Regions from separate parts of the Homo sapiens genome. Here region 1 is linked to region 2. Evidence: fine-mapped expression QTL. A gene starts in region 2. The other region holds a variant in brackets. All regions are shown on one strand. Distances are from middle to middle. Region 1 overlaps SLC7A8 (solute carrier family 7 member 8). Region 2 holds the start of SLC7A8 (solute carrier family 7 member 8).

What was found.
Region 1: its variant is fine-mapped to the expression of SLC7A8 in whole blood (INTERVAL, PIP above 0.99). The same link has a PIP of 0.9 or more in activated naive CD4 T cells.

Annotation. Positions count from the first base shown.
Region 1 is chr14:23,150,866-23,159,198 of GRCh38, forward strand. The region is part of intron 3 of SLC7A8 (solute carrier family 7 member 8); the gene reads right to left. It also overlaps the pseudogene RNU6-1138P. Among named protein-coding and RNA genes, the nearest start is that of SLC7A8, 29 kb to the right of the region's middle. The variant CA/C (reference allele first, on the strand shown) is at 4,133.
Region 2 is chr14:23,180,188-23,188,520 of GRCh38, forward strand. SLC7A8 (solute carrier family 7 member 8) reads right to left here and starts at 3,473. Exons shown (of 11, transcript NM_012244.4): 1 at 2,577-3,473. The coding sequence starts at 2,727. It also overlaps a transcript of RNF212B not described here.

The DNA of each region.
Region 1 (8,333 bases), 29 kb before region 2:
AGGATGCTCCTTCACAAATGACCTGCTCTGGGGTCCTTCAACCCAGCTGTCTGGAAGTTGGGAGTGGGTCACAGGTACAGGCTGTGGGGCTGGGGAGCACAGGCTAACGCACTGGACCAGAAGCCCAGATGGTCAAACATATTCCCGTGCCTCAGTTTCCACTAGTGAAGAAAATACCACCAGGTCTTATAAGTCACGTGCCTCTGTCTGCTAGGGAGGAACACCCTGCAGAAAGCTGAAGAGCTGTGCGGTTGCTGCCCGTGCTGCCCCACTCCTCAGGCCCCACGGAGACTGTCCACAGCCAGCGGTGCACACGCAGCCATAAACAATCCCCTGGTGGCTGGTGTGGCCTTGAGGTCCTGTCTGGCACACAGTAGGCGCTAAAGCTTACTGAATGGAAACGACAGATAGATACATCTACACAGAAAATTCAAGGAGGGTGCACATAGAAGCCACCGTGCTGCTCTAGGGAGTAAATATCAGGTTTAATATGTCATAGGATGGCCCATGAAGCAAGGCCAGCAAGTGCCCCGGATGCCAGACAGAGTTGTGGGGAGAGGGTACATATTGTGGCTGTCTCTCCTTCCTCTAGGAAAGCTCACAAAGTACAGCCAGGCACAGTCACTGACACCTGTAATCCCAGTGACAGTAGAGACTGAGGTGGGAGGATCAATTGAGGCCAGAAGTTCGAGGCCAGCCTGGGCAACACAGCAAGATCCTGTCTCTTAAAAAATAACAGAAAATTAGCCAGATGTGGTGACACATACCTGTAGTCCCAGCTACAAGGGAGGCTGGGGTGGGAGGATCACTTGAGCCCAGGAATTCAAGGCTGCAGTAAGCTGTGATTGTGCCATTGCATGCTGGCCTGGGTAACCCTGTCTCTTAAAAAAAAAAAAAAAAAAAAAAGCAAAAAGCTTGCTGGGCACAGTGGGTCATACCTGTAATCCCAGCACTTTGGGAAGCTGAGGCGGATAGATCACTTGAGTTCAGGAGTTTAAGACCAGCCTGGCCAATATAGCAAAACCCTGTCTCTATTAAAAACACAAAAATTAGCATGCCTGTAATGCCAGCTATTCGGGAGGCTGAGAATCACTTGAACCTGGGAGGCAGAGGTTGCAGTGAGCCAAGATCGTGCCACTGCACTCCAGCCTGGGTGACAGAGATTCCACCTCAAACAAAACAAAACAAAAACAAAACAAAACAAAAGCAAAGAAAAAAAAAGCTCACTAAGAGTACACGTTATTCCCAGAGAGAGACTACTTGATAACTGTTTTCTTTTTTTTGAGAGCAGTCTCATTCTGTCACCCAGGCTGGAATGCAGTGGCCTGATGTTGGCAAACTACAATCTCTGCCTCCTGGGCTCAAGCAGTCCTCCCACCTCAGCCTCCTGAGTAGCTGGGACCACAGGCATGTGCCACCACGCCCAGCTAATTTTTTGTATTTTTGGTAGAGATGGGGTTTCGCCATGTTGCCCAGGCTGGTCTTGAACTCCTGAGCTCTAGCAATCTGCCCACTTTGGCCTCTCAAAGTGCTGGGATTACAGGCATGAGCCACCAATGTTTTCTTTTTTTTGAGACAGGGTCTTACTCTGTCATCCAGGCTGGAGTGCAGTGGCATGATGATGGCTCACTGCAGTCTCAACCTCCCCAGACTCAGGTGATCCTCCCACCTCAGCCTCCTGAGTAGCTGAGGTGTGTGCCACCAGGCCCAGCTAATTTTTGTATTTTTTGTAGAGACGGGTTATGCCAGGTTGCCCAGGCTGGTCTCTAGAACTCCTGGGCTCAAGTGAGCCACCTGCCTTGGCCTCCCAAAGTGCTGCGATTACAGGCATGAGCCGCCACACCCGGTGATGTTTTCAGGTGCTCCCTTGCTTTGGATACAGGACTCTGGCTTCTCATTGAGCTGGGCCAGCAGGGGGTCATTTTGTGCCTCCCTCAGGGAGCCAATGAACATTCCCACATGGATCCCTGAACCAATCTCATTTCTTCTACTAAGCCAGCTGCCACTCGATGAGCCACACTATTCTGGTCTGACAGGGTAAAGGTTGGGATAGGGCCACCTGGATACGGGGCTGGATTGGTTGTTATAAGGACAGTGCTAAGAAGAATGAACCAGTTGGGACTCTCCTTGTAGTCAACTCTTGGCCCTAGAGGTAAATATTTGAAGCCTGCGCCCTACCACCCAAGGCTTGTGTCCAGCCTCATGGGTGATCAGAAGGCAGGAATGACCTTAGAGACCCAGAACCTCATTTTATTTTTCTTTTACAGATGGGAGTCTCATTCTGTCGCCCAGGCTGAAGTGCAGTGGCATGATCATAGCTCACTGCAGCTTCCCAGTCCTGGGCTTGAGCGATCTGCCTGACTCGGCTTCCCAAAGTGCTAGGATTACAGTTGTGAGCCACCATGGCGGCCCCAGAACCTCATTTTATATGTGAGTGAATTTAGACCCCAGCTAATTCGCAGCAAAGACCAGACTGGGACAGCCCAATTCCCAGTTGCTTGTTCTGCCTCTGCCCCGCCTTCCTTCATTATACACAGATCACTCTGCTTTCCCTTGGCCGCTCCCACATCATCTCTCCTCCTGCTTGGGTCAGTGGTACCCATGGTCACTACTGCCAGTGCCACTTGGGACTCTGGGTCTGTCACCAAGACACTGGTTAGCCCCAGCCTGGACTGCTTTCTGTGCAGCAGGAAGGAAGATGCCAATATGGCAAAAGGGGAAGACTTTCACAGTTATGCCTCAGAAACCAAGAAAGGTGCATCCATTGCTCCCAGGGCTTTAGAAAGTCATTTCCCACAGGGATCTCCACCTTGGGTCCCCTCCCACCAGCCCCCTTAATCAATGTCACAGTCACATGTTCCCTCCAAACTCCCGGAACTCCATTTGGATTTCTCGGTCTCGCTGGCTTGCACCTTTCTCAGGAGTGGACTGGACTGGCTTGGAAAGGCTTGGTTTTCCTTTAACATTTCCAGAACCAGGCCACTCCTCCTTGTCTGTTCAGATAAGTGAAAACAGGCAGTAGAAAGGGGGAAAAATGTCCAGACTTGCCAAAGTCCATAAAGACAGATGGTGAAGAAGAGAGGGAAAGAGCACAAGAAACCACAGGGCGGGAGAGAGCAAGGGGAGGACAATGCAGATGAGTGGGAGAGAAAAAGGGCTTGAGAGGAGCAGAACAGAGAGAGGCCAGGACTGAAAACAGCAAGATGGAATGTACTAAGCAGACGGTTGCTGAAAAAGGAAGCAGTGACGCCACTTTGTAGAAATCAGAACGCCCTGTTCCTCTCCAAACCTGCAAAACAGGCACCTTTCTGGATGGAGCTCCCCAGCCCTCTGAAACGCCATAAATTTCACCTGGGTCATGGCCTGCCAGAAGGGTTGGCTTCTCAGCCTCACCTTTTGCTGGGGCGTTCACTTCTCTGCCTTCTGCCACGCTCTGGCCAGCTCCCACAGACTCCCTCCCCTCCAGCTGGAGCAAAAGGGGTGAGGCATGTCCCTCCCAGCAGCCCTCTGGGTCTGGGTGCCCAGGCTGGAGGTTGGAGCCGCTGGGCAGGGAAGCCGGGCCTGTGGGGGCGTGGGTGTGGCTACGCTCGGCTCTGTGATTGGCTGCACCGAGTTCCTTGGCCGCCTCCCCCGCTTGTGGAAGGAACTGAGCACGTGTTTCTAATTGTGGAAAAGCCGCTTCGGCTTGGCCTGTCCAACCGCAGGCGTTTCCAGATCTAGGAGGTAAGCAGTGCCGGCTGCCAAAAGGCGCTGATAGGCAAAGAAAACACGGAGGCCTGTTTGACCTCTAACGCACACAACCCAAGGCTCTGATAAGGTTCCAGTTCTGCCCACGCAGGCCACACGGAACAGTCTTTCCTCGTCAAAGACCCAGAGAGGCCTGGAGGTGTGGGGGAGTGGGCAGACACGGATCCAGCTTCACAGAACCCTCCTAGAATCCTTCTCTATTCCCCGCCCACCCCCACCTCAAGACATTTTTTAGAGCGGGTGAGGGGCCCACATTATAAAGTCCTTCCGCACCTGGATTATTGTACATGTAACATAACTTGTCTGATAAAGTTATACATATAACTTGACTGGTGAAAGAGAAAAACGTTAAAAAAAAAAAACCCACAAAAAGCCACACAACAGA[CA/C]AAAAAAAAAAAAAAAAAAAATCAAAGCAGCCCTTCCTCATAAACTGCGCTTTGATCCCAGCTTCTATAAAGTGCACAGTGGGGAGTGTGGTTTTGAAACAGATCTTGCCTATCGCACGATAGTAACATTTCCCCTTCTCCAGCCCTTTTCATCTCGAAGCACTTACAACGTTTTAGAAATCTCGGAACCCCCTCCAAAGGAGAGGAGGTGCTCTGAGCCTTCCGGAAGGGCCTCTCTCTTCCAAGGACACACCAGCAGAGGAGGAGGGTGCAGAGAAGCTGTGAGGGCTGTGAGTGCTCCTGGAGGCACACAGCTTTTACCAAACACTTCCAGCTAAGCTCCTGCCCATACTGCCCCATCCCCTCCCCTCCTCCCTTCCTGGCTCTCTCTTCCCCTTCCTTCTTATCCTGTTAGCTCCTGCGCCAGCTGCTGGAGCTGGGGTTTCTGCTGAATCACCACCCAGTATTTAGCTCAGCCAAGAGGCAGGAATACCCAGCTCAGCATTTTCCAAGAGCTGAGTAGTTCTCTCTTCAGCATGAGCTAAACATGGCTCCTCAGCTGGCCTGGATCGGGGAGAAGCGAAAAACTGGACACCAAGAAATCCAGGGTGGCCTGCCATGCCACCCTGGGGAACCCTATTTTAATCCTACTCATTACTTTTTCAGCCTGGGCCTGAAAAATTGCTATCTCACACACCAATTCTCAGGGCTGATGTCCCCCGAGACATGGAGCAAGGTGGATGAGAATGGGTTCTGTTGAGTCTGCACTGAGCCCAGGAGGGCTAGCCTGACCCTCCATCATATTTCAGTCTTGGAAGACAGGGTGTGGATCCTGTGAGGTTTAGTTGGTTCTTGGACCAGAAGGCTTGTAGGCTCTGTTGGTGTTCACTAAATTCTATAAACCTGGACCCAGGCTGCAAAATTCCCCCAAAACGGTTCAGTTATAACCCAATTCCAAGGGTAGCTTGTACTTAAACTTGCTGAACTCTTTTTTCTTTTCTTTTCTTTTTTTTTTTTGAGATGGAGTTTCGCTCTTGTTGCCCAGGCTGGAGTGCAATGGCACGATCTCGGCTCACCGCAACCTCTGCCTCCCGGGTTCAAGCGATTCTCCTGCCTCAGCCTCCCGAGTAGCTGGGATTACAGGCATATGTCACCACGCCCGGCTAATTTTGTATTTTTAGTAGAGACAGGGTTTCTCCACATTGGCCAGGCTGGTCTTGAACTCCCGACCTCAGGTGATCCGCCCTCCTCGGCCTCCCAAAGTGCTGGGATTACAGGAATGAGCCACTGCGCCCGGATATTTTTCTCTTTTTAATAAGGAACACTTTGTGAATTTGCATGTCATCTGTACATGGGGCCATGCTAATCTTCTCTGTACTGCTCCAATTTTAGTATATGTGCCGCTAAAGTGAGCACAACTTGCTGAACTCTTATAACAGAGATGCCCTTTTTTCTTTCCCCCAAAGCTCCAAGTACCACTGGGCCTCACTCCCATAAGCCTTCTGATTTTATGTTCTTAGGTATGTGATATAAATTTGGTGTGTCACATTAACCCTTAAAAGTTTACCAGACACAATTAATGGGTGACTTTATTTAAACCATGGGCCCTGGCTCCTCTGAGAAAAACAAAGTGATCCTTGACAGTCAGCAACAAAAGGCCAGAGAATTTAAGTTTCTAGGCTGGTACAAGAAAGTAGGCAAATCTCTACCACACCTGGTGGAAGCTGAACTCCAAAACAGTTTCCTGTTTCAGGAAACCTCAATCTCATTCACTGTTCTTCCAATCAGAAGTAGACATATTCCCAGAACAAGCCCCTCATTCCTCCATTTCCAGGGTGTGGGCACACACACTCTCTGAACAGCAGAACTTCTGTCTGAGAGTAGAAGCTGAAGAGCAGAAGAGACACTATGGGAATCAGGAAAGAGGAGGTGATCTGGGCCAGCAGTTGAAGCACATTGAAACGAAGAAGAAGGCTGACTTCTCAGGTAACTTACTTACTCTGCCATTGTAGACATAAGAGTCCAAAAGCACAGGGGATGCTTTCTCAAGTCCCAGCAAGTCTTAAGTGTTGAAGAGTGAGTAGAAAGGGTGACAAGGACAGAGGGGTCAACTTGACCAGTCTGAACCACACCAATTCAGATGATACAACAATACGTACAGACAATACGACCCAGTGTTGTCCTTGATTTACTTCACCTGTATCCCCAACAAGACCATGCAGTCCTTGACTCCTTCAACCTTAATCACCAAGGCCTACCAATTCTACCTCCTAAATGCCAAATGCATCTACTTTTCTCTACTCCCACTGCCCCAAGATGCACATGATAGTCATCTGCAATCTGAATCCTTACAACTGAATTGTAATCATCTTTTCTTGCCTCTGATCTTATTCCCCTCACCAATCCATCCTTTAGCTTTGCAGCATGACTCTCCTAAAATACAGATATGATCATGTCGGTCTTCTGTCTGAAACCCTTCAAACCTCATTCCTCCTAAGGGAAAGCCCAATCTCTTTATGGCCCATGAGGCTTTTCATGATGGGGTCCTTGCTTCTATTATATATTTCTTGCCTCCTAGTCTATGGTGTGGCTATACTGAACAACCTGTAGTTCCCACAAACAACTGTGATTTTTCCTGTCCTCAGACCTTGACACATGTTAATTCCTTCTGCTAGAACATTCTCCCCACCCCATTCTACTCCACCCTCCCTCCGTGCTGAATATTGCCTGACTATGTCCAACTGGTCTTTCAGTCTCAATTTACATGTCACTTTCTCCAAGAGCTTCTTCAACCCCAGTCCCATCCTCACTTTTCTTGCAGGAGCTGCCTGGATGCTGGCCTCCTGGGGAACTGGAACTCCAGTTTGAACTGAAATTCCCTGTATACTTGTCAGGAACATCCACTGGACTGTGGGTTCCTTGGTACAAAAACTAAGTATCCCCATGCCTGCCACAGTGCCTGGAGCAGAACAGACACTCAAATATTTAATAACGTATGACTGATTGTGTATTACCCGCGGCATCAATAGAGGACACACAGGTGGGTGTAGTATAATATGTGTTAAGAAAGAAGGCTAAATCTGCTGCTGCTGCTTCACATGAGAATGAGAGTCTTTCGGTTTATTGTTGTCTCCCCCGTGCCAAGAACAGTAACTAGCCCATCATGGGCACTGATAAGTGTTTGTTGAGTGAATAAAGTGTTGCATTTATATAACATTTCCCAAGAGTCCCAATCCCTTTCTAAGTTATACTGCTCTAGAGCAGGCAAAATTTTGAGCAGGATCCTGGGAGCACCACCCTGGGGAAGGTTCTAACCAGAGACCTGCTCAGCACCCCTCGGGGCTCTAGGGAGGACATGGAAGGCAGACATGGAGTCTAGCTCTGTCGCCCAGGCTGGAGTGCAGTGGCGCAATCTCGGCTCACTGCAACCTCCGCCTCCTGGGTTCAAGTGATTCTCCTACCTCAGCCTCCTGAGCAGCTGGGACTACAGGCCCCCGCCACCACGCCCAGCTAATTTTTGTATTTTTAGTAGCGACGGGGTTTCACCATATTGGGCAGGCTGGTCTCGAACTCCTGACCTCGTGATCCACCCGCCTCAGCCTCCCAAAGTGCTGGGATTACAGGCGTAAGCCACCGCGCCCGGCCGACATAGAACACATTCTAACTGCTTGTCATCAATGCTGGGAACATTTAAGTTGAAACGTATTTCATTTTGATTTGGGGACAAACTTGATTCCTTCCCTTAGTAGTCAATTAATCAATATGTCCAGCTGATTCTACTCCTAAATCTTTCTTGTTTTTGTCATCTCTCCATCCTTGTTACTTCATTCTTAGTTCAGGCTACCATCTCTCTGGCCTGGACAAATGCCTAGCCTGCTTGTCTCTCTGCTTCAAGTTTCAGTCTTTTCTTTCCCAAATGTGAACCTAATCATGTGACTCCTCTGCTCAAAATCTTTCAGTGATTCCCTGTTCCTTGGATAAAATCTACTTACCTTTCAACATTTAGCTCAAGCTGGGAGCCTTTCCAAGCACTGTCTTCCCAACTTTGAAGCCCCGTTCTCTGTGTTGCCCACATTTTTTCCCCATCACATTGTATTGTAATGATGTGTTTTTGCATACGATTCTCTTCACTAGACTAATCTTTTCTAAGACTCTATAAATCATACCTTATCTCCCCTTAGTGTAGGAGTTCAGTATGGT
Region 2 (8,333 bases):
GAGCCACCGCACCCGGCCCTTTTTTTGCCTTTTAGTTCTCTTTTTTTCTGCAGTGTTGACATTGGACACCAGATCCCTGAAATCTACACAGAAAATGCCATTTCTATTTTTGCATTTGGTCTTGAAAACACTTGAATCACGATCATCCACTGAGAAACTTCTCCAGAAGAGGAAAGGGCAGTTCCTCAGCACATCTGTGACTCAACAGCAACTCGGGAGGGGAAGCAGAATGGATTTTGTCCCCTGTTATCATCTTAAAGGGGAAATTTGTTTCTAGCTTAAGTTGGGGTAGAATAGTGCCTATTAACTCTACAAGGATTCTCATGTTTTGCAAAAATATCCCAATTTCTCTGAAATCACATATTTGGAATCTCTTTTCATCACAGAACACCAGAATTGCCATTCTAGTTACTGTAATGCCACCATGGGGAGCTTTGAGATTATTCTCCCATTGAAGTACCATCCATAAGGTTGTGGACAAATCAGTAGTAACATATACCCACAGAAATTGTACTTATTATACCTGAACACTCCCATTTCTTCATAATCTTAGAAAAAGATGTTAAAGGAAGAGACAAAAACATCAGTATATAGGAAAATACCCTCTACCCTTGAATACCTGAACCTGGAGATCGAGACCATCCTGGTTAACACGGTGAAACCCCGTCTCTACTAAAAATACAAAAAAAATTAGCAGGGCGTGGTGGTGGGCGCCTGTAGTCCCAGCTACTCGGGAGGCTGAGGCAGGAGAATGGCGTGAACCCGGGAGGCGGAGCTTGCAGTGAGCCGAGATCGCGCCACTGCACTCCAGCCTGGGCCACAGAGCGAGACTCCGTCTGAACAAAAAAAAAGAATACCTGAACCTATATTGGGAAGGGCGAGCCAGGCTGAGGCAGGAAGGATGTTTAATTGTGCTTGTGTGCCTGTGGGCGTGCGCATCTGTGTATAAGTCAGAACCTTCCTAGAGGGGGAAAATGCTTAATTCTGTCAGTCAAATTGGTGAACGGGCTATTTATAGACCTTAAACTGGCATGTGCTATACATACTGAATACTTGGCTGTTCTCATTTCTTTTGAACAATTGAGATAAAGTAAAGGAGAGGCAAAAAAAATGTCATGAGAAAAAGTAAAGAGAGATTCAGATCATGACTACAATTTTTCTTATAACATTATCTTTCTTATAACTGTAGATGGCCTGGAAAACTTCCCAGAGTCAGGGAATCACATAAAATAGGATTCCAGGGTGTAGGAGGAGTTGGTGGGGGTGGGGGGGGGATGGGATTTCATTTTAGAGACTGAAGAGAGCTTGGTCACTGAAGTTCTGGGTGTAGAGGTGAAGAGGATTATCTGAATACTGCACTGATTTTATTTGATTTCAAGAGTGCTCTCCAGTGTCACTATTGCTCAGATGCCAAAATATCTCTGAGCTATTGCATAGAACATGGCGTCAGCCAGAGAAACTGGTTCAGGGGCACCAGGACACAACGAGCTCTCATAAAGGAACTCTGGAGAGATGACAAAGAAGCATATCTATGCCTGACCGTCCTGCACTCCTTTTTCTGGGAAGAAAGTAAAGCCCCCTACCAAAGATAGCAGAACAATCTCTCACTCTGAAGTGAGGGCAGGAATAGTGAGCTATTGCCTGCCATCCATCTCCAAGGCTTCTCTGGAAAGAGGATGTGCTGTCTAGAGACGAAGCTGTATTTGGGACTCCTGCCCTGCAAAGTACATTCAGGGGGTTTGAGTGGCCTGCACTGGCACTCTTGGGGCCACCCAGGTTCCCCACCTTCAGCACCTCCCAGCTAGGACACATATTTTACCCATCAGTTCCTCCTCAACTCCATATTCTACACATTCTAGTTACTCCTGATTCCCTCTGAGAGCTTCACCGGGTCCTCCGTGGCTGTTAAGAAACAGGTGGACCCCACCAGGCAACTGGAGAAACTGCAAACTCTCCACTTACCGAGAGGCACAATCTGTCCCCTCTTTTCTTCCATAACTTCCCCATCTGTGAAATGGGAATAACAGCCCTGTCACAGCTACTTCACACAGTAAAAGTGCTGCATAAGGTGGAAAACGCTAAAATAAAAAGGCAGGGCATTGCTCTTGCTATTTTTAATACCTATCCCATAGTTTCATTTAACATAAAACTGCAAAATAGCTACCAAATATACCTTAAAAGCCCATCCCCAGCCTGGGAATAATAGCTGCATACAAACTTGTTCAGGTCCCTCAGTCCCTCCTTAAACCTATTGAACTAGAACCTCCAAGTGTCGAGACCAGGACCTGTATTTTTAAGGAGTTCCCAGGCAATGCTAATCATCAGCCGGGTTTCTGACCACGATTTGCTCCATTCTATGAACACTGGGCAGAATCTTTGCCTGGTTTGGAGGAAGAGATGTATGATGTATTTCCTATGCCTCTCAAACTTGACCAGTGGAGGTGAGTTACAGCTCAGGTGACTGACAATCCTTTTCTAAGGAATAGGAAGAACAATAATGCTTTCGAAGGGTTAAGATCTCACAGGAGGACCACCAGAGGGGAGAGGAGGGGTCCGCGGGAAGGAATGGAACTCACCTACGATGATACCACAGGCACTGACCAATCCGATCTCTTTCTTCAGGGCTACTCCGCCCCCTCCGGAACCAGCCTCGGGGCTGGCGTCCGACTCGCCCCCACCTGGGTGTTTCTTTTCGGTGTTGTTTCGGTGCCTGGCTCCTTCTTCCATCCTTCTCAGTAGGATTGCAACCTCAAAAGCTGCCTCCCTTTCTAAATGCGTATTCGTGTAAATATATTGGGAGAGAGCTTTGAATTAGAACGTCCTTTTCCGAAATAGGAACCACTGCTACTCTCTAAAAAAGGCAAGCAGATAAAAGAGAACACGAAAAATATTCCTACTCCGCATTCACACTTTCTGGTCACTCGCGTTTACAAACAAGAAAAGTGTTGCTAAAAAAAAAAAAAAAAAAAAAGGCCAGGGGAGACATACATTTAAATATAAAAATAGAACTGTGCCAGCGACTCCGGCTGGAATTCTGCTGAAAGGGATGTGTCTTCAGAAACCAGGATGGTTCTGCTCTGTGCACCAGGCAGTGGCTTATTCAGAAAGTGAGCCTGGATTTCCCTTCACCTCTCCCCCTAATAAAACAGGAGACTGCCTTTACCTCCCCTTAGTTTTTTCTTTTATGATGAAGACAAAAGTAGTTTTCATTAACGGTAGGAAAAAAGAGCAATCCTCAGGTACTTTCTTCTCTTCTAGAAAAACAAACTGTGAACCTGACGGTGTTGCTCTAGATCTGGTTTCCACCTGCTTTGGGTTTCTTTTCCCTTCCCCGTCTTCTGCTTCCGCCTTTCCCAGGTGTCCTCTTCTTTCTCGCTGGTCTTCGTGCCCTTGTTTTCCTCTTTTCGATCCCCGTTCTACTGCACAGCCGGCCCCATCCCTCTGGTTTCGGGAGAGTGGCTTCTCCACACACTAACGTGCTTCTCTTTAGCGAGGGGTTTTATTCGCCCGCCGAGGCTCCGCCCCTGCCTCCTCTGCTCCCCTCCATCCTCAGTCCCGTCTCCTCCCTCCTCTGCAATTTAAGTATTAGCACAAAGCCCCCAAACAGCACTGAGAAAATGGACTAAGTTATTTCTTTTTGCAATCGTCTCTCGCTTTCTCCATCTTTCTCCTTGCAACCAAGTGGAAGTAAACTCCTTCCACGTCAACTGTTCCGGGAGAGCTCATTAGCTAGTATAATGTTACAGGTCATACAGCATCTGTGAGCTTTATAAATCAGGGAACAGTTGTGCCGATACTTTTAATGCCATCAGAAATAAACTAGCCAATGTATTAAAAAATATTTAGGACTGGATCCTGTATTTGAGAATACAGGAGAGAACGTTGAAAGGACATCATCTTCGAGTTTCCTAAAAATAGGGGGAATCGACGGGTGGGGGAGGGAAATGGAAGGAATTAACAATGGGAAAAAGGTTCTTTTAGCGTAATTGTGAGCTACGAAGAGTACAGAGGAAACAAAATCGCCAGGCGCGGTGGCTCACGCCTGTAATCCCAGCGCTTTGGGAGGCTGACAGGGGAGGATCACGTGAGCCCAGGAGTCTGAGACCAGCCTGTGCAACAGAGCGAGACCCCGTCTACTAAAAATTTTAAAATTAGCCGGGTGCAGTGGTGCAGGCCTGTAGTCTTAGCTACTCAGGAGGCTGAGGCTGGAGGATTGCTTGAGCTCAGGAGGTCAAGGCTGCAGTGAGCTATGATGACGCCACTGCACTCCAGCCTGGGAGGTAGAGCAAGACCCTGTCTCAAAAACAAAACAAAACAAAAAGCCAGAAAAACCACATGCACATACAAAAAGATAAAAAACAAAATCACCAGGTAGCCTTGTTGTTCACAGCTCTTATTTAGGACTGGCTGAAACATGAAAAAAAATGACTCAAACCCTGATCCTGCAACTTCTAATATTTTTGCATTTATAAACTATTTGAAAAGCACACATGGGGAATTATCAGTATATCGCTGATCATGAAACATACTTGTTGATGTTAGAATAACTAGCTTATTACCATATCGAAATGATGCCTCCACTTTCTTGAAGAATTTCACTCAGAAACTGCTGCCTTAAGGTGAGAGCAACAATGTCTATTTATAATTGTAAATTATTTCGAAAAAACAGCATGAAGCAATATAGTGGACAACACTATAAGTCTAAAATAAAGTTATTTTTAGCCTTATTAAATATATTATGCAAAATTATTTAATTTTAAAGTGGGCCTAAAAAATTAAGTTCCCCCAAACTGACCCCTAACTACAAAAATTTGGCCTCACTTTCTGGAAAATGTTCCAAAAGATTTTGGGTTTTAAGGAAAATAAATACTTAATTCCTTAAAATGAGGTTTGTTGAGCTATCATAGCAAAAGCTTTTTCAAATGGGGTAAAGTCCAATCAGCAGTCATCTGCCCCCTTGATCACTCAGCAAGTATTAAGAGGTTTCAAAGGTTGGGAGGAACTTCCTCTCCTCCTTTTGCTAGTTCAAGACACAGCAAATTGAAAGACTCAGCAAAAAAAAAACAACAAACAACAACAAAAAAAACCAGACAAGGCAGGGAATATATAGCACGAAACTCCATGGGAGGGAATGAGTCATGGGAAATGAAAAAATGTCGAATTTGCCTCTAGCCTTTCCTGACAACCTTAGAAAGCACTGAGGAAAAATTTGATAGATTCATTTGTATACATTCAGATTTGAAGACTTCTGCTCCGATTTCAACATCACCATATAAAACAAATAATGTTTCTGCTTCTTAAACGTGAGTTCTTTCAGTAATATTTGGTAGTTCTAATTTATATGATGCAGACTTAATGTGGGATAAAACATGAATGTGATGAATTTGAGGTCTCTTGCTAAAACCAGTGCAAACTGATAACGATATGGTAAGCTTTAGCCCTCTCAAATTATGAACTAAGAAGCTAAGGGGGTTATGGGATCAAATACGTTCTTGGAATACAGCGGTACTAGGTGCACACGTTGGAAAGGAAGAGTTGCTGAAGATTAGTATTTCTATTTCTTTAGCACTTGGAATTTATAAGTGGCTTATTACCATTGATTACTGGTGCGATGTAATATCTAGGAAAGGGGCTGGGCACGGTGGCTCATGCCTGTAATTCCAGCACTTTGGGAGGCCGAAGCAGGTGGAGTGCTTGAACTCAGGAGTTCAAGACCAGACTGGGCAATGTGGTGAAACCCCATCTCTACAAAAAATACAAAAATTAGCTGGGTGTGGTGGCTCACGCCTGTAATCCCAGCTACTCAGGAGGCTGAGGTGGGAGGATCGTGTGAGCCATGGAGGTTGAGGCTGCAATGAGCCAAGATCGCACCACTGCACTCCAGCCTGGGTGGCAAAGTGAGACCCTGTCTTTAAAAAAACCAAACCAAAACAAACAAACAAACAAAGCTAGGAAAGGAATCTCCCCACTTTCAAAGGGAGCATTATTTATATTAAGTGCCTCTCTGTAGGTTGGAATCTTTTTGTGACATAAACTCTTAAGTGTGTCAAAATTCCAGGTGACTAACATTGAACACAAGAGAGAAAGAAAAGCCTTGGTGTAATATGTTGACAAAAATCTGTAAAAAATTACAAACTAATGTTTATTAAATTTTGAGCATTTTTTTTTTTTTTGAGAAGGAGTCTCGCTCTGCTGCTCTGGCCGGACTGCAGTGGTGCGATCTCGGCTCTCGGCTCACTGCAACCTCTGGCTCCTAGGTTCAAGTGATTCTCCTGCCTCAGCCTCCTAAGTAGCTGGGATTACAGGCACCTGCCACCATGCCTGGCTAATTTTTGTGTTTTTAGTAGAGACGGGGTTTCACCCTGTTGGTTAGGCTCGTCTTGAACTCCTAACCTTGTGATCCACCCGCCTCGGCCTCCCAAAGTGCTGGGATTACTCTATTCTGCATTTGCCTTTATATTTTTATTCTATTCTCTACGTTTAAATAGTGCTTTATAGCCCACAAATGGTTTTCTGAACAATATCTCAATTTTTTTCCTCCTCATGTAGTATCTTGGGCAGACGAGGCAGTTATCTTAAAGATTTTAAAAATTAGAAACCTGAGGCTTAAAGAAATATTTTACCTGAGGTAAAAAACAAGACAGTCTATTTGAGGGCAAATGGGAGATTGATAGTTTACACTGAGCACTTTTTCAGGATGCTATAGCTACTGGTCAAAGCCTCAATTTCTTTCACCTGAGGGAAACTCTGTGTTTTTGCTTTGGTGTCTTAACTGTGCCTTTTAGAGACTCACCTTGATCCTAACACTTATCTGCTCAGTGAGACCCACAGGACTTCACCTGGGCCCCCCCAACATTTGTCACCCCCTTCGCACAGTCCTCAGTGTGGCCATATCCCAAGTACGTAGTACAATTCTGTTTCCAATATCGGAGCCACTGTTTCAGCTGTTTTGCGTGCTTCAGATCAGAAGAAATTGATCCCTTTAACTAGGGAAAATTATGGATGAAAGGCCGTTTTCTTACAAATATGGATTTAGAAAGAGAAAGGCTGTGCGTAGCTGACACCTACTGGACAGAAAAGGTTATGGCTTGGGACATGCTGCTTGTGATAGTTAAAACACAAACACACACAACCCCCACGCAGTCATGTTCTAATATTCCCCTACTCCCCCCTTTTTTAGAGACAAGGTCTCACTCTGTCACCCAGGCTGGAGTGTAGTGGCACAATCACAGCTCACAGCAGCCTCAAACTCCTGGGCTCAAGTGATCCTCCCGCCTCAGCCTCCCGAGTAGCTGGGACTACAGATGTGCGCCACCACACCCGGGTTAATATTCCCTTTCAGAGACAAGTTAGACGTGTCTGCTAATGCAAAGGAATAGAGCACAAAGCTCATGCACTCCATTCCTGATTTTTTTTTCTAGATCCAATAGACAGCACTTTATTCTTGCTTTTTGTAACAGAGCTGGGAAGTCTGAGGTTACCAACAAAGGACCCAAATCTCTCCCTGGAGTCAACTCACAGTCCATGCGCTCACTCCATCCTTCTTCTCGTAACTATGTGCCCCATATCTATGTGCTTTAGTTTAAAGCAGAAGGAAACCCTGCTTTAAATTAAAGCCAACTTTCTTCCCAGAGTCCCAGGGATCACTGCCTATGGTCGATTAGATGGGGCCTTCCTGAGCCAGTAGTTTTAGATGCCTTTACTTCATTAGAAAATGAAAAGCAGATGAAAATTAATGAGAAAAGAAGAAAAAATTAAAAAAAGAAAAGGCCAAAATAGGTCAGAAAGAAAGGAAGATGAAATGAGGAGACTCGGTCAGTGATTAAGCCCTTTTTAGTGTATGCTCTGTTTGCCTTTTGGGCATATTCATAAGTTCAAAGGAAGTTGTGTCTTCTAGGGTTTATGCAGTCCTGAGAATTTGGATGCAGCTGACCCTGCTTTGTTATGATGGTTAATTAATTCAGCTCTTCTGGAGATAATGATGAATCCTTGCTCTGACACCAGAGACAAAAATTCCAACAGATTACTCCTCTGTCTGCTGCACTTGGTGGGATTCCATGGAGCCAGCCCAGCACTAGTGGGAAAGAAATAAAGAGGCACTGCCTGTGGCAGGCCAGATCTCCGCATTTTCTTGATTCTTTTGCTGGGTCCAATCTGTCATGGGGCCTTAACAGTCTTCTTTCTCAGGATTTAAGTGACTCCAGCTTTGAATACTTAAATATGGAAACTTCCCCTTCTTAATTGGTTTTCATTATGTTTGACAAAGATTAGGGTTTTTTTTTTTTTTTTTAGAGATAGGGTCTCACTCTCACTCTGTCACCCAGGTTGGAGTG